Linked DNA regions of Homo sapiens: all the other regions are linked to region 3. The links come from fine-mapping of genetic effects on gene expression. A gene starts in region 3. Each other region holds a variant in brackets. All regions are shown on one strand. Distances are between the middles of the regions. Region 1 holds the start of LOC124902840 (small nucleolar RNA U13). Region 2 overlaps MIR4300HG (MIR4300 host gene). Region 3 holds the start of DDIAS (DNA damage induced apoptosis suppressor).

What was found. PIP is the estimated chance that this variant, and not a neighbour inherited with it, causes the effect.
Region 1: its variant is fine-mapped to the expression of DDIAS in whole blood (TOPMed, PIP above 0.99).
Region 2: its variant is fine-mapped to the expression of DDIAS in whole blood (INTERVAL, PIP 0.92).

What each region holds. Positions count from the first base shown.
Region 1 is chr11:82,835,875-82,844,060 of GRCh38, forward strand. It overlaps PRCP (prolylcarboxypeptidase), which reads right to left. Exons shown (of 9, transcript NM_005040.4): 7 at 3,387-3,551; 8 at 2,513-2,700. LOC124902840 (small nucleolar RNA U13) reads left to right here and starts at 8,011; the gene lies at 8,011-8,111. It also overlaps the pseudogene EIF2S2P6. The variant T/C (reference allele first, on the strand shown) is at 4,316.
Region 2 is chr11:82,030,641-82,038,826 of GRCh38, forward strand. All of the region lies in intron 5 of MIR4300HG (MIR4300 host gene), which reads right to left. Among named protein-coding and RNA genes, the nearest start is that of MIR4300, 140 kb to the left of the region's middle. The variant C/T (reference allele first, on the strand shown) is at 4,348.
Region 3 is chr11:82,897,247-82,905,432 of GRCh38, forward strand. DDIAS (DNA damage induced apoptosis suppressor) reads left to right here and starts at 4,490. Exons shown (of 6, transcript NM_145018.4): 1 at 4,490-4,576. It overlaps PRCP (prolylcarboxypeptidase), which reads right to left and starts at 3,184. Exons shown (of 9, transcript NM_005040.4): 1 at 2,989-3,184. The coding sequence starts at 3,156. It overlaps LOC124902602, which reads right to left and starts at 4,809. Exons shown (of 2, transcript XM_047427953.1): 1 at 4,802-4,809; 2 at 3,668-4,435. The coding sequence starts at 4,809. The coding sequence ends at 3,778. RefSeq lists enhancers at 2,910-2,959, 3,080-3,139, 3,290-3,389, 3,670-3,719 and silencers at 3,930-3,979, 4,030-4,119.

The DNA.
Region 1 (8,186 bases), 61 kb before region 3:
TCCCAGATGAGGATGGAATACTAAAGACACAGCTCTAGCCGGGCGTGGTGGCTCATGCCTGTAGTCCCAGCAATTTGGGAGGCCGAGTCAGGTGGATCACAAGGTCAGGAAATCAAGACCATCCTGGCTAACATGGTTGAAACCCCATCTCTGCTAAAAATACAAAAAATTAGCTGGGCGTGGTGGTGGGAGCCTGTAGTCCCAGCTACTTGGGAGGCTGAGGCAGGAGAATGGTGTGAACCCAGGAGGCGGAGGTTGCAGTGAGCAGAGATTGTGCCACTGCACTCCAGCCTGGGTGACAGAGTGAGACTCCATCTCGAGGAAAAAAAAAAAAAAAAAAAAGACACAGCTCTAGAAGATGAAGACAGCAAAAAAGACGATGCTGTCTCATTCAGCAATCAGATAGGCCCTGATAGGTAGGTCAGAAAGAGACTGCACATATAAGGAGCTACTGGATCATATGTTCAACATTATAAGGGGAAAGAATCCAGACACAGTTGCTTGAAAGAAAAGGAAATTCACCATGAAACCTCTACAGGTCGTCCAAGTAGGAACCAAGAAAACTCCTTTCATCAACTTTATGGATATCTGTAAACTATTACATCAACAGCCCAAATGTCTCCTTGCATTTCTTTCATTTTTTTTTGTTTTGTTTTTATGGTTTTTGGGGAGTTTTTGTTTGTTTGTTTTTTGAGACAAGATCTGGCTCTATTGCCCAGGCTAGAGTGTAGTGGTGCAATCTCAGCTCACTATAACCTCCACCTCCTGGGCTCAAGCCGTCCTGCCACCTCAGCCTCCTGAGTAGCTGAGACTGCAGGTACATGCCACCATGCCAACTAATTTTTATATATTTTGTAGAGATGGGGTTTCACCATGTTTCCCAGAATGGTCTCAAACTCCTGGGCTCAAGCAAGCCATTTGCCCTGGCCTCCCAAAGTGCTGGGATTACAGGAGTGAGCCACTGCATCCAGCCTCCTTGCATTTTTGTTGGCTGAATTGGGTACAAGTGGTTCTACAGACGGTAATAACCAACTTGTAATCAAAGGAAGATTCCCATAGAAACAGAAAATGTCTTGAGGAGATATATCAAGGAATATGTCATTTAAGTTATGGGGCTCCACCCTTATGAACAGAGTAGTGCCTCATAAAAGGGCTGGAGGAAACTAGCCCTTGATACATCAAGGAATTGTCAAGGTGATGTCACACATGCCAATCACCAGACACAATCCTGCAGAAGGGCATCCGACTCTATTTCTTACAGTGTGAAAGTTGTCCTTCTCAATGTTCTGTTGCCAGTATCAACACCAGGCTGTCACGGGCAAATAAGCACAGCTCCATGCCAAAGCTAACCAATTTGCTAATCACTAATTTTGCAAATTGTGTTGTGGAGATTTGGCTGGATAAGTTTGCCATCAGAGTGGATCTACCATTGTATTAAAAACGAGATTAAAAAGCTGCCAAGTTCTTTGGTGAGTAGTTGGTTGGTCTGAAATCCTTGCAAGATGGCAATGCTCAAGCTGGTGATATATCCATTGCCTACTTTAACAACTGTCAGAGAAATGCGACATGGGGTAAGGAGATGCCTTTTAAAAATCATTCATAGACTTCTGTAAAATGCAAGATAAAGTTTTAACAGATTTTTTCAAAAAATAAAAACTAAAACAAATAAAAGAACTTCTAAAAGAATGACATTTACAATTTTAAAAATAGCTCTGGTTAACAGGTATGTAGTGGCATCTCCTATTTCTATATAGACTTGGGGAAATTCTTGATTAACTTGTTGCTATTTTAATAGCTGACAACCTAATGTTCAACTCAAAACATGGAAATTTTGAAGTCCCAGTCAGATACACATGGAGTCTGCTCAATTAACTCTAATGTGAACCAGTGGCAACTGTGTGACTTCTTAAGGAACAGTGTAATGTAGAAAAACAAACATGGGATTTGTAGTCAGGCCATGATAGAAAGCTGGCTTTATCACTTAGTAACTAAAACAAAGCTGGATGAGCTTTGGCAAGTGATTGAACACAGTGACCTTCAGTTTCCTTCACAGTAAAAAAGGGGCTATAAAAACTACTTCACAGGGTTGTTGTGAGGATTTAACCAGGTAATTTATTTAAAGTGCCTCATTTAGTACTTGGAACAGAATGAAGTGGGCACTTCAAAAGTGATGAATACTGAAAATTTTTTATTACCATCAACAACAACATAACAATAATAAGACAAATTAAGAACAACAGATGATGCTTTATTTTGTGCTGGAGAGTTTTTTTAATATTTAAAAAATTTTGTTGCTGTTGATTTTTAAGACTTTCATAAAGCACATTGGTAATAGAGCAAAAAATCCTATCTCTTCTCAGCATCCTATCTTTCAAGGCATAGGAAAACATGACAGGTAGCACTGTTGTATTCTATGTTGTTATATTGTCCAGCATTTCCCTGGTTCTGTTTTTTCAGATATTCTACAAATGTTCCACCAACTGAAGTTTATCTTTGGACAGCAAAAACTCACCTGAAAACAATGTTTGTGTGTGAACTAATGTTTTTGCCTCCATACATAGTAGTGATCCAGGAGGGCCTTGGTCTCACACCCCACTGTTGAAAACAGTCATCAGAAAGTTCCTTTAAGTTCCATGAGTGAGGTTCAAACATGTCATCGACACCATTAGTACAAAAGGGCATGACTACTTCTGTGCAGGCCTAAGAAGCAAACCAAGAGAGAATCCAATTAGAAAAATGAGGCAAAAAGAGGTTAAATAAATTACACAAAGTCATAATGCTGGTAAGTAGTGAAGGCAGGGTTTGAACTCAGGCAAGGCAGCTTCAACGCCCTGTTCTTTACTTCTGCGCCATATAATCTCTCATTATTCTTAAAAAGACTTGGCCAAGAAGTCACGGAAGTCAGGATTATGTCCCTTCATAGCAAACTGCTTGATTTCACATTTATTATCACATTTAACCCTCAAAACAACTCTGCAAGGAAAGTTTATTATTATTAGTCTCATTGTGCAGATGAAGGACAAATTAGACTCCCTTTCTTTTATATGTCTATAAAATGCTTCCTTTGTAGGACTTATCAAGATCTATTGAAATACTACTTACTTACTTTTTTACTACACTAGATTTGATCATGTACCATTTATCTTTGTATCTTTGAAACCTAGAGGAGTGCCTGACACATGTAAGAACTCAATATCTATTTGGTGATTATTAAATGAACAAATGAATGAACAAGAAAACTTGTCCATAGTATCACAGCATAAGGTAACAGAGCCCAAAACTGGATCCAGGTTAGGTGACAAAATCTTGTGTACCCTGATTTTTTTTTACAGCACAACTGTGTCAGTGAAAAGTAAGTTCCACTTGGGGAAATTATACATATTTACCTGATAGCTCCAACCCAGTGTTCCCAGACTGCTAGTTGCTGTCTCTGAAATATTCAGGCATTTCACCTGGCCCGAATAATTGTAATATACATTCAGAGCTTGGAAAATATTCTGCAGCAGCAGTGAATCAGATACATTGGGATTTTTCAAATACTGGCACACTACCTGTCATTTTAGAAAGATAAATGGGGAAAGAGTCAGAATATGAATATAAAATGACAGTTTAATAACACAAAGAAGAAATATGATTTTGATCTGATCATAAAATATTCTTAAGCTACTAACTGCAGTGTTTAATTTCTCTCTTGGGTTTAATCCCCTCCATAAATGAATAAACCTCTTCAATTACTCCTTAGGCTATAGAAATAAACCGAAGTCATTTGCATGGTATGCAAAGTCCTCTCCATCTACCATCTTAGCTTCCTCTTTGCTGCCTTTGCTCCAGCCTAGGAAAACCATTCCCCACCACACCAGGCTCCTTCCCCTTTGCCCTTTCTCACCCTGAAACACTGTTTTCCAACTCCTCTCCCACTCCACTAATGCCTTTGAACACCAACTCATCTTTTACAACACTCAACTCAAATATTACCTCCTCTTCAAGGCCATCCTTGCCTATGTTTCCAAGTTGGGAAGAATTAAACCTCTCCCTTCTTGGTGCCTCCATTATACCCTGTACCTATTTTTATCACAGCCCCTGTAATGCTCTACTTCACTCACTTGATTTCAGAATGTCTCCCTCAGTACTTAGCAAGGTATCTGGTAAGTAAATGTTTGCTGAATGAATTACTATACTTTTATAAAAATGCAAAATTTATAAAATCTCGTATGGAAAAACTATACCAAGTTCCAGCATCTGTCGTGTGATAAAAAGCATATGCTGCAACTCCCCAGCTCCCAAATATTCCTATCACTATCCTATAAAAAATGCC[T/C]GGAATCCTAGCTATAAAAATCAGACAATATTCAGGGTTAGGAGTAAAGGTGAGGACTGACTAAACAGAGCCAGTGCAAACTTTCTTGGGTACAGAAATATTCTATATCTTAATAGGGTTACATGAAAAATGATATAATTTGTGTATTTCATGGTATCTAGATTTCACCCCTCCACCACCAGAAGAAGAACCATACACAAATATTGAACTCTTGTTAATGATAATAAAGCTGAAGTATTTAAGAGGAAGATGTCTGCAATTTACTTTAAAATTCATTTTAAAATAGGATAAATTAAAAGATAGATGAAGTGATGGATAGGTGAATATATATGTGACAAATCAAATATAATAAAATATTATTTATTGAATTTAGATGTTAGGTTCATGAGTGTTCATTGTCCAATTATTTTAACTTTTCCATATGTTTCAAACTTTTCATAATAAAATGTTGGAGAAAAATAACAGGCAATGGAATCATAGCTGAATAATACTAACAACAACAACAGCTAGTAATTATTAAGCCTTGGGTTTCCAACCAATACACCATGTAATCTTCAAAGAACCCTATCAGATAGATGATTGTCCATTATTTTACATGAAAAAAAAAACCTGATTCTTAGGTTAAGTCATCTTCAAGGTCACTCAGTTGGTAAATAATAGGGCCTAGATTTGTTCCCAGCTGTCTCTGGTTATGAAATATACATCTTATCCATTATGACACACAGCTTAGGAAGTGTCCACCTGTAAAACTACAAATAGTCCCAGTGGCAAGGCAAACCCAGTAAGCTTGAATCTCTATTGACTCTGACATGAATTCAGTAATCTGGTCCTTTTCCATTTCATACGGAAAAGATTATATATATAATAGACTAGTCCTGACAAAAAAAAGACTAGTCCAGAGAAGAAGCCAGGAAAGGAGCCCAGTCACCCCACCTCAGGGAGAGAGATTCTGGGCAGCAGGAATAACAGGGCCTGGGCTGGGGACATGCTCCCAGTCAGGAAAGGAGGGTACTGAGAAAGGATGCAACCAAACCCAGCCCCTCATCACAGTTCTGCCTGGCACCAGCTGCCAGCGGGGGAAAAAAAAAAAAAGGAAAACTGTAAAAGAGAAAATGAATTTTCAGGAAAATTCAATGCCTCTCCCCAAATATATTCTGCACCACAATATTTCCATGGAATGTTTATTGGTACTTTGTGGAAAAATGTTTCCTAGCCAGATAGTTTTGAGAAACTGTATATTAGCAAATGTGAACAGTTTTCCTGACTGGTTGTTATTATTATATAATCTCAGATGATTTCTCAGAACCTTTAACATGCTCAAATGTAATATGACTTTCCAAAGGAAGATGGAGTGTGCATCATTGCCAAAAGTTTTCAGAACTGCTGAATGTGAGAAAAGTCAGAAATTAAGATGTTCAAATAATTGGATATATCTTTCAAAAGTAACTGTGAGGTCATAAGAATAAGGAATACCAGGGTTTAGGATGTACATGAAGAGAGAATTGAGCTAAACTGAGAGCTAATTAAAAGTCAAAATAGTGTTTATTTTGGCAACTCTCGATTTTTCATGGTAAGTCAAAAAAATACCTAACATTTGCATGGCACTTTTCTCAGAAAACATTCCTAGGAAATATGTCAATAAGAAATAACTCAAGACAATATGGAAATCAAGAAACAATCATAAGATATATTAAACCATCTATTGCCAACAGTTGATCAGCATTCTTTCCTGAACCTGGACATAGATTCAGCTCTTTCAAAATGCAGCACATAACTACAAAGTAGACACATGGAATGCAGAGAAGCGCCTTATGTTCAAGGACAGCATGGTAGATGGGGAAGGGCGACAATGCAAGCTGGGCAGGGGGAGAGGAGGTAGTGATGTGCAGCAACAAGTGGCCCAAAACTCTGGAAAAGAACAGTAGCAAGTGAGTGTGACTCACATGCTGGCATCAGAGCCCCTCTTAGAGCTTAGAACACTGGGCCTCTGTCAGGCAAAGAAAAGGAGTCCCTATGAATAGCCATCTCCACAAATAGCAGTTACTGTCACTTCTTAAAAGACACAAGCATGGCTGGAGACCGGCACTGGCTGACAATACTTGGGTTTCAGCAGCCCCAGTTACACAGAGAGAACATCATGGTCAGAGACTTGGCCTCTGTATGATGGAATTCCAAGTCCAGATTAAGGGCACTCCCCAGGCACTGTGCTCTGTGAGGTCAGATCACCCTTGGAGTACTGGATCCAGCTTTGTACACAACTTACGAAGGGCACCGACCAACATTAGAAAATCTAGAAGAGAGCAATCGGGATGGGGAGCTGAAAAACAGCTGAAGCAACCCTAAAATTGGGTCATTCCCCACCTTTCATCATTACAAATAAGGCTACAATAAATACCCTTGGGGCTAAATCTTTCTTATATTCTTAATTGTTTTCTTGGGATAAATTCTTAAATTACTGGCTCAAAAGAGATCAACATGTTTAAGGCCCTTGGTACATCCTGTCAAACTGCCTTATAGAAAGGAAGTGCTGATTTTTAATTCTACTACTATGCTAGATAGAAAGCCTGAAAAAATGTCACTTAAAATTTTTTTGCAAAATATTTGCAAATTTAATATGGAAATTTTATTTTAGGTAAGTCTAAATTTCCTTTCTAACTCAAAGATTTTGTGAGTCCAAGCATCATCCTCTACCATTAAAAAACAGAATCTCTAATATCTCTTTGCACTTCCTTAACAATTTTGGTAGCAGAGTGAATGAAGTTTCAAAAAAATACTGAAGTCATATTAGCCAGACCTCAGCACTATTCCTATGCTTATTTAAAGACTAGAGTAACTCAATGCCAGGCACAGTGGTTCATGCCTGTAATCCCAGCACTTTGGGAGGCCCAGGCAGTAGGACCACTTGAGGCCAGGAGTGCAAGACCAGCCTGGGCAATATATCAAGTCCTCATCTTTACAAAACATTAAAACTTAACCAGGTGTGATGGCACGTGCCTATAGTCTCAGCTACTCAGGAAGCTGAGGTGGGAGGATTGCTTCAGTCAGGAGTTCCAGGCTCCAGTGCTATGATCACACCACTGCACTCTAGCTTGGGTGACAGAGTGAGACTCCATCTCTTAAAAAAAAAAAAAAAGACGAGTAGTTTAAAAGGAGATATTCACATACTTTTATCAAATAACTGTAGGATGCATAAAATACATAAATATTAAATTGAACCATATGAAATTCTCACATTTATAAGTCAAAAACAGTCAAATATCAACAATTTTGTCTTAACCTCATATAATACTTTAGCTTAACCCTGATAATGTGCAGATATTACTGACGTGACAAAAGCAAGCACTTGGCCTGTTGATTGTTTACATAGAGGCTGTGATATAATCAGACAACCATCTCTGTCCAAAATACTCAACACCCAGGTATCCCTGAACTTACTTTCTATTTATTTTGTGAGCCCTAGCAAACGGCTTCTTCTAAACAATTTCTACATAAGGCGTGTCATTCCTACACATACTGTAAATGCGCTGAAATGTGAATAGCTGGGACTGAGGTTGCTAGTACAACTACTGAATATTCTTTGATGGCAGGGCAGGTTCTTTCCTCACAATAACCAAGAGAGCACCATATAATGATCATTCCCATTTCACAGAAGAGAAAACAAGCTCAGAGGTCTGGCTACAGATACACAATTTAAAAACCATGAATGCAAGAAGCGTATGATTGGGTTTTCATGCTCACGTGTGAAATGGACCACCCTCAAACCTGGTTATGCTATCAGCACATTACCTGTCTGATGTGGGAAAAAAAAAAAAAAAAAGCACTATGAATATAGGTCTCAACCCAGACGTCAACCACAAAGTCCTGGTATAAT
Region 2 (8,186 bases), 870 kb before region 3:
GAATCACAAAAGAAGTGAAAATGGCCTGTTCCTGCCTTAACTGATGACATTCCACCACAAAAGAAGTGAAAATGGCCAGTCCTTGCCTTAACTGATGACATTACCTTGTAAAATTCCTTTTCCTGGCTCATCCTGGCTCAAAAAGCTCCCCCACTGAGCACCTTGTGACCCCCACCCCTGCCCGCCAGAGAACAACCCCTTTTGACTATAATTTTCCTTTACCTACCCAAATCCTATAAAACCCAAATCCCCCACCTTTATCTCCCTTCGCTGACTCTCTATTCAGACTCAGCCCGCCTGCACCCAGGTGAAATAAACAGCCGTGTTGCTCACACAAAGCCTGTTTGGTGGTCTCTTCACACAGACGCGCATGAAACTAACCCTGATAAATCAATGCCTAAGTGGTCTTCATACCACGTGAAGCTCCTTTTGGACCACTCAACTGTCTAAATCATGAGGTAGTTGGGATGAGGAATTATAATTTAGTACTATAGTTAAATAAATTAAATTTATCTCTTGAACATAAGGATTTTCCTTACATCATTCTTTCAAGTAAAGTTTTATTTGTATTTTTATCTAACTCAATGTGATTATCATTTACTTCCTAACCAAAGAGAGACTAGAAAATTATGAGCTTTTATTCTTTGCTACTCAGTGACCTAGAAAGACAAAGCAAAATTTGAAATGAAAACCCCCTAAATTCCTTATGCTACACACCCTGTGCCTCCCAGAGAATGGTAAATCCAGTCTTTTTTTTTTTTTTTTTTGGTCCCTTAGGACAATTTTCTGTGACTCTGTGTACACTGGAAACAAAATTGGTTAGTTATTGTTAGATAAATTTGTTGGGTAAATCCAGTAAAAATAAACCACGTATATTATCTGGAACACATATCACCTCCACTCTTGTTTCTGTCCTCATCGTATAAGTTTTGCCACTTGAAGTTGTTCATCCTTCATGAAATCTTTCATGCATAACTCAACTCTTCCTCTTGACTTAATCTCTCAAAAGTAGTACAGGAGCTTTTAGAAATACATTCTCTTGAGGGCAAGTACTATATCTCCTGCTTCTCCAGTTCATTCTATACCCCACTCACCCAAGATAGTGTGCTGGTTAGTAAGCCACTGAAGCCCCACTCAAGGCTCACCCTTCTGTATTCTGCCTAACCATAAAAAAGCAGGAACGGTACCAACCACACTTCTTTCCCTGCTGTTTTTCTGCAGATAGGCCTGCCATTTGCCTGCAGATACACTCGGCAGAGACAGATGATAGGGTGAAAAATCTAAGTATTGAGAAGGGAGAAGGAACTTGCACTGGCTGGTTTTGTTTGCTGCTTCTGTTAGTGTCACCAACAACATTTCTTCACCCTGGCTGCAGCAATGTATTCCACTTCCAATTTTCTTCCCATGCTCCAAGGATCAGCTTCATTTCGCTATCTCAGAGATGCAAGTTCTAGCTGTCAGTGACCTCAAATATTTGAAGTATCAGAATCAGCTAGGAAAAGTCTGTTCTTAGAGTTCTGCTGGCCCCTCTTCAAGTTCCTAAAGGCTAGCAGCTGGAAAGGACCCCTTCTTCAGAAATCTGTATCACAGGTTGTTAGGTGCCAGTAACTCTGACATTTTCCCATTTTGTCTCTACCCTTAGAGTTGGTAGATGCTTTCTTCAATAGTTCTCTCTATGTTATCTTTATGAAAAAGACACTTAAGAAAATTTAAAAAAAAGTGGAAGGTGATCCAAAAAAGTAATGAATATAGGCTGAGATTTTACAGCCTGCTCAAAAAAAAGGGGGCTATTCATGGTGTGGTCTCCCCTGAACCTAAATACAAGGTTCAGAAACTTAGTAAACAGGGAGCCAATAGGCAATGACCTGGCATCACCCCCATGGACACAAAACAGCTAATACTATTTTCTTTTTAAAGATAACTGGGGCATGCAGAGCCTTAATTTCCATAGGCAGGATTCCTTTTCTGCCTTTTCAGTTTTCCAGTACTTGTTTATACAGTTGCCTACATTAAATTTTATATCTTAAAATAACTAGTGTGGTTTCTAAAACCTGCCCGTACCCTAATTGATATACTCAGTGTCTGGAATGTTGTAGGGAACCAAAACATGTGTTGCTCCAGTCTTCTCAACTTCAAGGGGCTTCATGATTTGTTGAATCAAAGTTTTACTTCATTCTGGAGACTTTAATCATGCAAAGTCCTGAGGAAAAATGAAAGTTTACCAGGAATTGTTGCCACATAAAATCTATGTGCATTTCAAGGAAGAAAAAAGAAAGTTTTAAAGTTTTGGAATTCGAGCTCACAACTTAAGCGCAAGACTGAAATAATACAAAATATCAAATACATACTCATTGATAAGGGATCTGAATATATGCTTGCTCAATCTGCCATGAGGTAAGCAGCATTCCTGCATGTAGCCACCCAAAAACTTTTCAGGGTTAAGTGATTCAGTTCTGGTAGAAAGGAATCCACAATCCAGGAACCTTTCTTTATTAATGTGAAGATAATATTTGGGCGTGTTCCCATTTGGGCATGTTCCCACCATAACTAATATGGATTTTTATGTAAGTGTGCAGGCAATTTATGTATATTATCTGACTTAATATTGGTGAAACTCTTTCAAGCTTAAGTATTATATGCATCTGATAGATAAGGAAATCATATTTCTGATTGATTCAGCAAAGTGACCCGAAATCCCCAATTTGGAAGTGCCAGAACCAGAAGTTCAACTCAGGTCTGTCTTATTCCCACTTTTTTACTTTGCACCGTTCTGATAACCCATAGGTTTGGGAGTAGGAATCATAGAGGAATGGTCGTCTATCCCTATCTAGAGAAGAGACTAGCTGTTTGGTAAACTCTGCCCTGAGGAATGAAAGAGCACAAAGTAATTTGGATTAAGAAAAGAAGTTATGGAGAGCGAATATTGTAATTGCAAAAGTTTCCCTACTTCTTGTTCTCATTAGGCAAAATAGTATAATAATAAGCAGTGTCTTTGCCTTTAGAACAGCTGGAATTCAAATTCCATCCTTCTACTGAATATTTTTATCTTAGAAAAGTCACCTAATATCTGTAAGCCTTTGTTTTACTAACACCACATAACATTTTTTATTTTTAAGGAATAAATATGATAGATGATCGATAAATGTTAACTTCATTGACTTTATTAACTCTTTTATATTTCTATTTTCCATATTTATTCCTGCAGTGACTAATAAGAAAATTAATATATCTAAAATTAAAAGAACTTTTGAATCTATCTAAAACAAAACTAAAGAGAGAGGTTTTGAGCATATTTTGTAAAATTCCCTGAAGAACTGGGTGAAGAAACACTGGGTAAAGAATGATAAAAAAAAAAAAATCAAGAGCAGATTCAAAATGGCAATAGAGGTTGGCTGAGTATCTAGGCCTATCTAAAAGAAAAGGCGTTCTTAGTCTTTGATCCTAAAGATTTCAGGGTCTTAATATACAAGAATTAATGAACAATGACCTGGCAACCCTTTGACTGGATACAACCTGGCTATTACTTTTTTTTCTTTGTAGATGAGAAAACACACTCAGGCAGGCCTTCTCCCATAGCTAGTGAAGGTTAGAACGCTCATTTGGGTCCAATTTTTCTGCTTCCAAATCAAATGTTCTTTCCAATGTGATGCAGCTTTATAAATCAACTTCTTTCCCTATTATTCCGCTATTGAGTTTTCCTATTTTAATAAGATGAAAGTATCTGTTTTTTATTATACAAATTGAGAAGCAGTAAGAAGACACACACACTACCATTACATCTCTTCCACATCTCTGCTAGAGCTTACAATTTAAAGAGAAAACTGTCAGGGCATTCTTGCTTGCCTAGAGTGAAAGTGATCTCCAAATGCAAACTCCATATAATATGCACTTTGGATGTTCTTTGTCAAGCAATCTTATTTTCAGGAACATAATTGCTTTGTTCAATCAAAGTGTCTCCAAGTGCTGTGGGCTGGAGGCCTCATGATTTAGTTTCTATCAAAGAAATTCTGCCCCAAGTGGAGAAACTTGTCTGATTTAAATGAATATCAACAAAAATGATGATTTTACACTTTTCAGGGAAGAAATAGCCCCAACAGCTCTTGTGTGTTTCCAGGGACGTTAAGGGAGGCTAACAGATTTATGGTCTCATTATTGCCTGAAGCAATAACTCTTCCAATAGGTAATTTTTATGATGTGGGACCACAAAACATATGGGAATAAATGTTCTTGAATGAAGGAACTGGCTGTCAGGGTTTTCAAATACAGCAGTTACTGAAACAATAGATGATTTTCACAAAAAAATGAATTTCTTTCTCCTTAGCTTTTCTCTTATCATCTACCATTAAC[C/T]CCATCAGAAACACTTGTCTCTTTAAATAGTAGAAAGTGTCATACAATCAATTGGTAAACATGAATACAAGCATAAAATACCACATTCAATTAATATTCTAATAATAACACTAGATAAGAGTTTGATATTTACAATATAATATTAGATACTATTTTAATAGTCTGTTTTGTTGCTATAGAGGAATACTAACATTGGGTAATTTATAAAGAAAAGAGGTTTATTGGCCCTCAGTTCTGTAAGCTATACAAGAATGGAACCCACATGTGTTCCTGGTAAAGACTTCAGGAAGTTTACAATCATAGTGGAAGGCAAAATGGGAGCCAGTGTATCACATGGCGAGAGAGCAAGTACGGGGGGATGTGCCACTTTTTTAAACAACCAGATCTCATGTGAACTAACAGAGCCAGAACTCACTCTTTACCATGAGGGAAGATACCAGGCCATTCCTGAGGGATCCCCTACCGTGACCAAAACACCTCCCACTTGGCCCACTTTCAAGATTGGAGGTCACATTTCAACATGAGATTTGGAGGGAATAAAACACTTTTTGATATGGTTTACCGTATCAAAAATAATATATAATGGTAATAATAATAAACTATCTTCAATTAGTAATAATTGCCATACATTTTACTCCTAATCTGAATATCAAACAGAACTCAATGGACCACTAAGAAATTATAGGAGATGTGTCTTCTCATCAGTAGATGTATTTAAACAGAAATTAAATGTCCATGAGTGGGAGTGATTTTGGAATCAAAATAACTTAAACGTTTTGGAATGGACTTATGTATCAGATAGGGACAATACTAAAAATGATAGAATATTAGCCATTCATGGAAACTAAAGGAATAAAAAGACTTTAGGGACCCATGAAAATTAAATACATAAAAAGAAGAAAACAAACTTTTGTCAGATTATCTGTTCTTGGCTAGGTGTTTTGCCAGTTGTTTCAGTGCTTCCTCCAATTTATAAATTTAAAACCTGATAGTTTGAATAGGAATAGATGAGAATTTGGCATTAAAACAATATCTACCTGATTTTATAGAAGTTTTTATTTCAAGTGCATATTCCTAACCATATATAATAAGCCTCAATAAGCCAAAACAATTTTATGCTTTGCCTATAATAGATTTTAATAAGAGTAAATACAAGTTTTAAATTTAGTTCTAAAAACAACAACAATTATTCATGGATTTATTGCAATTTTCTGACACAATCATCAATATATAAAAGCAGTTTCCCCAGCCCTGCTTCCTTCCAGATCTTCTCAATCACATCACCTATTTCATTACCCTATACCAGTTATCACTATATGAAATTATCTTTGTCTTGATTTCATTGCACATTAAATGCTGTCTCCCCACCTCTAATACATAATCTCTGAGAGATACGTACTTCTCTTTTTGCTCACTATTACATCTCTAACACTTTGAATACTACCGGGCAAAGAGTAGAACCCCAATAAATATTTGCCGAATTGAATTTAGTCTTACCACAACAGCAATAACAATGTAGGCTTCCAATATAAAAGTATAATTGCTTATAAATGAGGCAGCATTGCACAGTAGAAAGAGGGTATTTTTGAAGTCAAATAGTTTACTCAGCACCTCTGAATCCATTGCTCCTTTAGTGTGAGGTGGATGGTGTTATCATTCTGAGTTTATGGAGGACAAACAGACAACTAGAGAACACAGTGAATTTTACAAAATACATAAAAATCAGAGATGAAACTAAAACTCCTATTTTGAGTTTGAGTAATATGAGAGCCATTTTATTTTATTTTTTCTATTATTGACCCACATGTTGCACAGGAAGTGGACTAAAAAATAATACACGACAAACAAAGAGGTTATAAAGGAAATGATGAGAGTAGTCAAATTGTAGTAGAGAGTACATTTTAGAAAGTATTGAAAAATAAGGTTGAATAGTAAAGTAGATATAGTTAACAAAGGGACTACAAATATAGGGATAAAATAATTAAATAGGGTATTATGCAAAGATATATTTCATTCTATTAAGAGTTTTTGACTTGGGAATCTTGGCATTTATTTTACCATGTAATTTTACAGGGCAAATATGATCTGCTGAAAAATGGAAACAGAGGCAATCTAGTATTTTTTTCTTTATTAAACCTGGTATAGTTGCATGTGTGCGTGTGCGTGTGATTCTCTGTCTGTGCATGTATTACGTGTCTCCAAGAAGGGTATAATAAGAAAAATAACGTGTTGCAGGTGCCATGACAAAAGACTGTGCAAACATAGTCATGGCACAAAAGCAGGAGTTATTTATTTTTTACTTTTTGCCAGTATGAAAACAAACAATTAATGATATCATTATATCAACTTTGGAGAACAGAATGATGATTATACTTTAATATTGATATTTATAATGTAGATTCAAGTATAGTCCAGGTCAGAGTTTTTCAGCTGTGTGCCAAGTACAGAATGTTTGTTCTTCAACAATTCAAACAAAAGAGACCCAAACCTGTAGTATCAGTAACTTTCTGGAAGCAAAATTCAAATTACAATGCTGATAGAATCTGTGAGGAAGCTAATTGCTAAAAATTAATTCCAATATACACAGACACATTTGAAATTGCATCACTGTAATCTAATTATTTTAATAGAAGCTAAACCAATTAAACATAATTACTTACAACCTTCAGGTTAAAAATATTGATGCAAAAACTGCAGCTATGTAAAGGCATAGTATAATATTTTAATTATATCCACAAATGCATTTAAATTAGATATTCCATTTTATCCACAAAGCAGTTTCCTTTGTATCTGAGCCCAATGAATATGATCTGGTTTGTTTAAAAAAAAAAACTAAATTATTTATTGACAAAATAAGGTGGTGATTGAAAACCACCCAAATTTATACAGATTTATTCTAACTCAATTTATTCAATTCAATGGGGAAGAAAAGTCAAACTGCTTCTGTGATGTCTTGGAGAAAAACAAAAAGGAAACCTGTTGATTGACAGAATTATTTTTGAGATCTACTAATAGCTATGTTTTGGTGAAAACATGTAAATATTCTTATTTTCATATTTAAGGATACCTTAGTAAATGGAAAGAGCATTGACTATACTGGGCATCTAGTTTCAAAGGATAACAAAGTACAACAAATACACTAGTTCCTTCTGAAAGTATGAATAGTTATCTGATAATCCAAATATTTTAAAATGTACTAAAAAGGTGTAGTTAACACACATTAGGCTTGGGCTTGGGTTAAAGTAAAAGACATGTCCTCAATCTTATTTTTCAAATTTATGGGATTATGCATGGATCCTGCTCTGTATATTATAAAGCACTTTAAACTGTATATTATTGCAATAATTTGTTGCCACCATGTGGCAGTCTCTAGATTGGGTCATGCCACCTCCACTCAACATTCTGAGTCTTGGTTTCATCACCTTCCTGGCCAGGAATTCCAGGAACTTTTCCACAAATCTTTCAGGGACTCAGTACGTGTTTAATTCACCTATTTCAGGGAGATTATTCCAGGGTAGTATAAGGAATTTTAGGACGTACACTTTGCCTTCTAGCTTAATGGAAAGAAGTCATCTCTCTTTCCTTGTCTGGGTATCAAAGTAGCCTCCCTTTCCCTGACCCCAAGTTAGGAATGACTCCAAACATTTGAAAAAATGTCAGGAGCCAGATTCCAAAACAATATATCCAAATTTTCATCTTGTGCAAGGGAATACTATAGTACTGGGAAGATTACTGTGTGATATATGTTGTTTTTTTCCTCCTGCTCCTTTCATTTCTACCAACAAGCATAAGATTATAGGACAGATTCCACATGAAATAATATTAATTGTAGGTTTACT
Region 3 (8,186 bases):
GGAGGAAAAAATAATTAGTAAAGAATTAAAGTAAAAGATAAAAAGAAAAATAAAAAATGATTTGTGACAATTAAATGATGGTAGCCTTTGCTTTGTTTAGGTTCTTTTTGAATAATCATGCATTCACTCTTTCAACAACTATTTATTTTGTGCTTTATACTTTTTTATAGGCTCTTCTAGGTATTGTAGAGTACTAACGAGCTGGAGGGACACATACAATATAGTAAATGTGCAGGATGAAAAAAGACCAACTAAATTTCCTTAAAGAAGTCAAAGATTCGCAGAAGAGGTGAGACATTTCTGCTGGAATAGAATTATGAGTTTAAATAGTGGGGAAGAGGGATGGTATTCCAGACAGAATTTCTGACACAGTAAAAGTCACTTGAGTCTGTTAGGTTGCTAAAAGTGGGAGCTGGGATGGGGAATTATGGCAGAATATAAAGTTGGAACGACCAGCTAGGGTTACATAGTAAGGAACAATGGATTCCCATGCCAAGGTGTTTGGCCTTTATCCTGCAATCAGAGTTATGAAGAATTTCTAAGCAGGGGAGGGATAAGACCATGGGCTAAGCCTTCTTAGAGACCACTCCATAAAACCACATCCTTTATATACATAGAAGGACAGCTGGGTCCAGCTTGGTCACTGGGGCAGATATAACCACAGGTAAATCATTATAAAGTTTAATAAAAATTAAACCTTGAATAAAAAACTAAGCCTTACAGTTTTAATAATAAGTTTATTACTAGAAGGCATCAAAGTATTTCATGTGCTCTAACTTAAAAACTTAAAGTTGAGTTCACACATAGTCCTAACTAAAAATCAATGGTTCAGAAATTGGCAACTAGTATAATTATAATTATGCAATAAATACATATGTAAAAGTTTTCCTCAGAAAATGAAATAAAACTCAATTGGAATAGACAGAAGAAAAATTATTATTATGGTAATAAATACATACGTGGAATCTGTATCCTAAAATATAAATTAAATATAAGCCAGTGGACAAAATGTGGCTGAGTAAAGCTGGACTTTGCATATCATCAAAAATGGAAAAAGAAACAGTGTTGAATTATATTTCTAAGGAGTGTAGTGGCCAAGAAAAGAATCTACAATAAAGGAACATAAATTAGGAACTAAGGTACTAACAACTCATTTGTTCCCTTCCTCTTTTCTGCTGATAGTTCTCTTTTTCATCAATCCCAATGGGATTTTAGAGATCTCCCAATCCAATAGTCCTCCCCACCGTTTTACTTTAGCAGTTGAGTTCTGCAAATAGTTGTATATAAAATCCCAGCATATAAAACAGGTAAAAGCTGAAAGAGATCCAAGAGAGGGTACTAGAGCACCTAATTTGGCCTCCACTTCAGCCTTCATCCACTTTCCCTCTGAAACAGCTCCCCAAAGAGCCCTTAATTTTCCTCAGTAAAGTGTAAAACACATTGGTCCTTGTCCCAACCCTCCTAATTTACAAATGAGGGAATTATGCCCTAGAGAATTAATTTAAGGGAGTTGCCTGAGAAAAAAGATTATTTCCTAGTACCCCTGCTAAAATTAAAATGTTTTCTCTTCCTCATAAACTTGAACTCAAATGTCTGGGTTAAAAATTGTTTCTTGGCTGGGGACACAGTGGCACACGCCTGCAATCCCAGCCCTTTGGGAGGCCAAGACAGGGGCATCGCTTGAGCCCAGGAGTTCAAGACCAGCCTAGGCAAGATGACAAAATCCCATCTCTATTTTTAAAAATAAAAAAATTTTTAAATTATTTCTAAGTTATTCTGGAAGTCTATGACATCCCTCTACCACAAATTCCCATTCCAAATTCACATAAGGGCTGGGCTCAGTGGCTCACACCTGTAATCCCAACACTTTGGGAGGCTGATGCAGAAGGATTATTGAGCCCACAAGTTCAAGACTAGCCTGGGCAACATAGTGAGCCTTGTCTCTGCACAATTAACAACAACAAAATTTCACATAGGTCTATAACCACATATTATATGAGTGCCTACTTGAAGCCAGATACTCTGCTAAGAGTACGTTATCTGCTCTCATTCAACCATCACCACAAACCCCAAGAGATCAAGGAACTAGGCTCACAGAAGTACTGTAACCTGCCCAAGGTCACAGAGCTAGCAGGGTGGAATCCGGTTCTATCTGACTCCTAAAGCCAAGCTTCAGACCCTTGCACTCTTTCTAATCCCAACCTTTTCCAAATCTTTTCCTATTTTTACACAGGCTTTCAGAAATGCTGAACTGTAAGGATTACTTGTCATTTCACAGAGGATGTACTTTTCCATCAAGACCTGTGGGGGAATGCCTCATGCTGCAGCCAAGCACAAAGGCATCAAGCCCAAAAACCTCTAATTTCACGTTACAGACCATAGAAAGGCTAATCCCCACCCCCACCACAAACTCCTACAACTCCTTTTACAAGCATAGGCTACATACATTCAGTCTTATGGGGAATAGGGACTGTCAACAATTCTTAATAATAGGGCTACAAAATCAGCTCTGAGCTGACCCCTTCTGAGAGGCTGGCTTTTAGGATGGATAACTATCCAATATTTTCTAATAGGTAAAGATATTAAAATTTGTATTTAGGGCTGCCTTGGGGCAAAGGATGACTATCACCGCAGACTAGGTACCAGAGCTGGCATTTAATAATTTGAATTTGAGGGAAGGTCAAGGGAGTTCGGATTGGGGCACCCTCTGGGAGCAGAGGGAGTTGAAGTGACTGTCGTGTCCAATTACAGAAAAGCCTGAATCAAGAGTATGCAGCCAAAACTACTACCAAATTATTGGTAATGGGAGGAGAAAATTTAAACAGAACTGGGATTTGGGACCACCTTCTGGAAGATGTTAGCCAAAAACCGAACAGATCCTAGGCATCAAGGGGTGTGAATTTCGAGGTAGGCTCCGTTGCCCGGGCTCTGAGGGTCAGGGTTCCCGGCGGTTGGGCCTGGGACGGCGAAGCCCCCGCTCCCCCTTACCTTCTGTTGGAAGTAGAGAACCGAATAGTTCTTGGCTACAGCCGGGAGGGATGTGGGGTTGGTTGGCAAGTGTAGGCTGCCGAGGGCCCTTAAGGCCGGCCGGAGGGCTATGGTGGCCCAGGGCGCCAGAAAAGACAGAAGCAGGAGCAGGAGGGCTCGGCGGCCCATGGCTCAGGCTGGAGACTGCAGTGCGGGTGGGAGGGCGAAAAGGAGGCCAGCAGAAGCGCACAGGCTAAGCCCTGCCCAGCCTGCAGCTCCGCCCGCCGCAAAACAGCTCCTCCCAGGGGAAACCCAAAGCCAGCCAGCTCCTCAGAGACGCCGCCCAAGCCAGGTCACCACAGCCACTCCGCCCCCATCCCCGAGGACACCGCCTCCACTCCACTTTCCTCTCGTGCCATCTGCTCCTTAGCACTCACCTTCATTGCGGTCACACCCCAAGTCTGCCCTTATCATGCTAGGGCCTCTTCCTAACTCATCGCTGTAGCCCATGCTTTATCTATAGCGCCCCCGAAGCCCACCTGTCCTTCAGGTCACCCAATATCCCTACCATTATCATCACCACCAAACCCTGCCCTGGCCACCGCAATTCCATTGCGACACCTCCTGCCTTCCGCAAATCCTACGTAACGGCAATAACAGCTACCATGACAATTTATTGAAGGTTCACTACAGGCCAGTGTATCACGAGGCAGGGAGGCACACGCATCATCTCCTCTAACTAAATCGTCACAGCAATCTTGTGCGTCGTATATGATTGTTATTCCCATCTACAGATGTGGAAACTGAGGCTCAGAGAGGTGCGGGAACTTGCACTAGATCACTCAGCAGTGAGCGGAGCACGTCGTCGCAGACCGCTGGGTCCAGGTCCAAAGACTGTGCTCCTTGCACCCACCTCCATCTGGAGCCTAACCACTCCCTATGATACTCCGTTCTTGGGTCACCCCAAAACTGTGTTGCTCGCACAACCCATCCATTACACAGGTCGCCCCGGGTCCACATCGCCCCTAAATCCCGCCAGGTCCCGGTCCCTTCTTTCAAATAACGCCCCCTTTCTTCTCCGGCACCCGAAAACCCACTCCGCGCTCCACCCCCCTCCTGCCTCCTGCCACCGCCCCCTTCCTCCCTCCGCCCGTGGGTAGTGCTAGCCCCTAGGACAGCGCCGGGTCTGGCTTCCAAAGCTCCCTCAACCCTCTTCATCCAGCTTCCATTCCCTCTTTCAGTCACCCCGCCAGACCCCAGGGCGCTGCGGCTCACTCCACACTTTCCCGGGAACCCTACGCCCAGGAGGCTCAGCGAAGCTCCAAAACCAATTTTACGGACTGTACTACTGATCCACCTGTCGGGGAGAAAGACTCTACCCGCAGTTTGACGAAAATGGTCGTTTCCAGATGCTTGTAGGATTTCCTCGCTAAGCTCCACCCTCTGCGGCGCCTTCTTCTGATTGGCTCTGAGTAATCAGAGCCAAAGCGTTACTTCCGGCGGAAAAGGACGCGGGAGATTCGATTGGAAGGCTGCCGGCGTGCTACTGAGTTCGGCCGGTCCGAGTCACTGTGCGTCGCCTGGGCCCGTTCCTGGTCTTCTCCCCCAGGTGAGCTGGGTAAAGGGGTTCTCGGGAAGCCGAAGAGCCGGAGACTCCTAAGGAGGCTCTTAACTTCATTATGAATGAGACCCACCCAGAGCCCGGCGCTTGTTTTTTCACAAGTGGTTCTCTGTAAACGGGCAGCCATGAGGGTAACAGAATATAAACGTCAGTTATTTTATTTTAGACTCAGTGCTTTTGCAATCACCTAACGAACGTTTATTGAACACTTACAGTGCCATCGAGCTAGACTCGGAGTGAGCTTTTAGAATCGGAAATAGAGAGGAAAAGGCGCGACTCTTGCTTCTGTAATGTGCAAATACGTATTCAGTGGGCCACTGTGCAGAGTAGTACGTGCTGAAAGGGGATCTTCCAAAATGCTATGATGGCTTAGAAGGAACATATTTTAACTGAGCCATGTGCTTAAACCAGAGCTTGAAAGTTTTCTTCCTTTTCACATCCAGCCAGTCCCTACCAGCCTCTTGAATATCTCAGATCTGTTCACTTCTCTCCGTTTTTTACTGACATTATTTTGGTTCGACCCTATGACTGCTACATAGCTGTGACAGTAACCCCCCCCTCCCCCGCCGCCCCAGCTGGTTCTCCTGCTTTCAATCTTGCTACCTTCCAGTCCAGTCTCCACATTGCTGGGCTGATAAAGTTCATATTTGACCGAGGCACTCCCCATTGAAAACCTTTCAGTCGCTCCTATTTGCCCTCAGGTTTAAGCCCAAACTCTTTAACATGACTTACAGACTCTTTCCTATCTGACTTTTGCCTGGCTCTTCAGCCCTAGTGGTTTTCCACCGCTCCAGCCATATAGAATGTCTTTTGTGTTCCTGAAGTGCACTATCCTCCTTCTCACCCCAAACCGTCTTCTGACCCTGTCCCTGACCTGGCTAATTCTTAGTCAGTTTGCAAAGCCTTTTAAATCAGAAACCCTTTCCTGACCCCACAGGACTGGATCACAGAGCACCAAGTAATTATTTGTTTATTCTGCAGATAGTTAAATGCTTCTTTCGTCTGTGCCAAGAATTGCTAGGTACTGAGATCCAATGATGAACAAGGTAGATTCCTGTTCTAATGGAACTTACCTTTTATGGATGGAATTAAGGAGAATTTACAAGGAAACTATGTGAATTAGACTGGTCTAAGAAGACCTTTCCAAGGAGTTGATACTGATGCCTAAAAGATGAGCGTGATCCAACCATGCAAAAGAGGGAAAGAAAAACATTCTAAACAGAGTGAACAGGTTGTGCAAACGTCCTGAGGCAGGAAAGAGCTTGACATGTTAATGTTCAAGAATCTAAGGAAAGACCAGTATAGCTGGAATATATTTAGAAAGGACAGTTGTATGAGATGAGTCTGGAAAGATGGGCAGAGACCGGATCATGGTTAGGAGGTTAATCCAGCACCATAAACAGGAGATAATGGTGATTTGGATTAAGATGATGGCAGAATATATGAGGGAAAAGTGAATGATGGTTTCTAAGTATGGAAGTAGATTCAAGTACCTTCTGATGAGTGTGATGTGGGATATGAAGGAAAGGGAGGAATGACAAATGACTCCTAGGTATCTGGTTTGAGTTACTGGTTAGTGAGTAGTACCATTTACTGAGATGTGACCTTCTCCATCCCTGTAATAAATGTCTCATAAATGATATCAATGGAAAAACTGTATCGTACTAAGATTTTCCTGGTTCATGTTTTTAAAGCATTTTTCATCAGTATTTCTCCTTTCACTGAAGATTTTGTCTCTTTGTTTTTTTGCTTACTTAATTTTCACTCTCCTGCCTGCCTCTCTTACTTTTCTAGAATTTTCGTGTCAATGTTACTAAATTATTTTTTAGGGACTTATTATGACTGCCTTTAGAAAAATTAAACAAGTATGTGCCATTGGAGGAGACCATTAGACAGTGTTAAGAAAACAATTCAAAACAGCCACCCTTCCCATAGCTGAGGCCTCTTGGCCTGTAAAATATGAAACAGAAAATTGGAGAATTACAAGGTGACAAAGATTTTCATGCAAGGCAAGAAGGGTTTGGAGAGGAACGAAGAAAGGGAGAAAAATTAGTCATACTTTCTTTTCTTTATGCCATTAGAAGTGGAACTAGTTTTTTAAAGGAGTAATTTCATCCTTTGGGCACAGTCTTGAAGCAAATACACATAGTTTCTTTCAAGTGTGAAGCTTGAGCAAAGAGAGTAATGGACTAGAAAGACTGGTAAGCTACTCATCAGAAGGCATGAGTTCCAGACCTGATTAACTTCTCTGAGTGGATCAGATAATGTTGCAAAAGCACTTTGCAAACTGTAAAGCAGTCAAATGAACTCAAACTGGATTATGAACTTTAAGATAGGATTCACATCTTATACTTTTATGTTCTCTTCAGCCCCATCCCCAGATGCCAGTTTACACTAAATACTTAATTGAACTTTTTCTCTAGGATCTAACATAGAATAAGAATTAGTTTAGATTTTCTAATCTAACCCAGTTTTTCTAGATCTTCTAGTCTAGCCGGAAGAAGAAAAAAAGATGTGTTGGTATGTGCATGTATGGGCACGGTTTTTCATAAATGATTAAGTTGCCTTCTGAGAACTTGATTATGAGGTAGTTAAGCTGAAAGATCACCAAATAATGGATTAGAGTAAAGAATTGCAAAATCATCCAAATGAGACTAAGATGCTGTCAGGCCTTGGGGATTTAACTATAACCATGTTTATCACAAGTGTTACACACCATGAGATAGTCTCAATGACTAGGCTACTGGTTTTCAAGTGTGGGCAATTTGGCCATTACCTGGGAACTTAAAATGCAGATTCTCAGGCCCTTATCCCAGACTTACTGAATCAAACTCTGGAGTTGGAGCCCAGCAATCTGTTTTATCAAGCCTTCTGGGTGATTTTGATATATGATAAAGTTTGAGAAATACTTGTCTAGTATGAAAATGGGATGCAGAGGTTGTAATCAATGAGTTTATATATCTGGTACCACTGACAAAACCATCTCTAGAATGAAAAATGCATCAGGCATTAGCTTGATTCCATTAAATAGTTGATTCACCAAACAGCTCTTCTTCAAGCAACTTTCTGTTTATAATTTTAGTATAATATGAGGTTATACCAAATATACAAATATGGGCTTCTGATATGTCCCTTCCCTGTGATGGTAATTTTTCGTGGTAAATTAGTAGAACATCTTTGGATTACAGTTCAGCTCCCCATATGGCTTGTCTAAAAGGAGAGAAAGCAAGTATTCCAGAATATCCCATGGTAAATTAGATATGTACTATAGTGTGTCCACATGGACCCCACATATTTTAATAAGCATAAGTCTATTGGAGCCTTCATTCCTGGACATTGACCTAGGTAATCCCTGGTATGTGCCCTTTGAAAAATCAAAGGCCAACTGAGGCCTTAATTAGTTCTGCCCCAACACTTACACTTTTGTCCCTCTTTCTACCCTCATTTCTACTTTTATGTGTGAGAGATTTAAAGAAAGCAAGATTTTCTTTGTATATTATTGCTAATGTCCCTATCCAGCATTTTTATAGTATTTATTGATTTTTTTCTAATTATAAAAGCAATACACTTAGATTGTATTTATTGATTTTTTCTAATT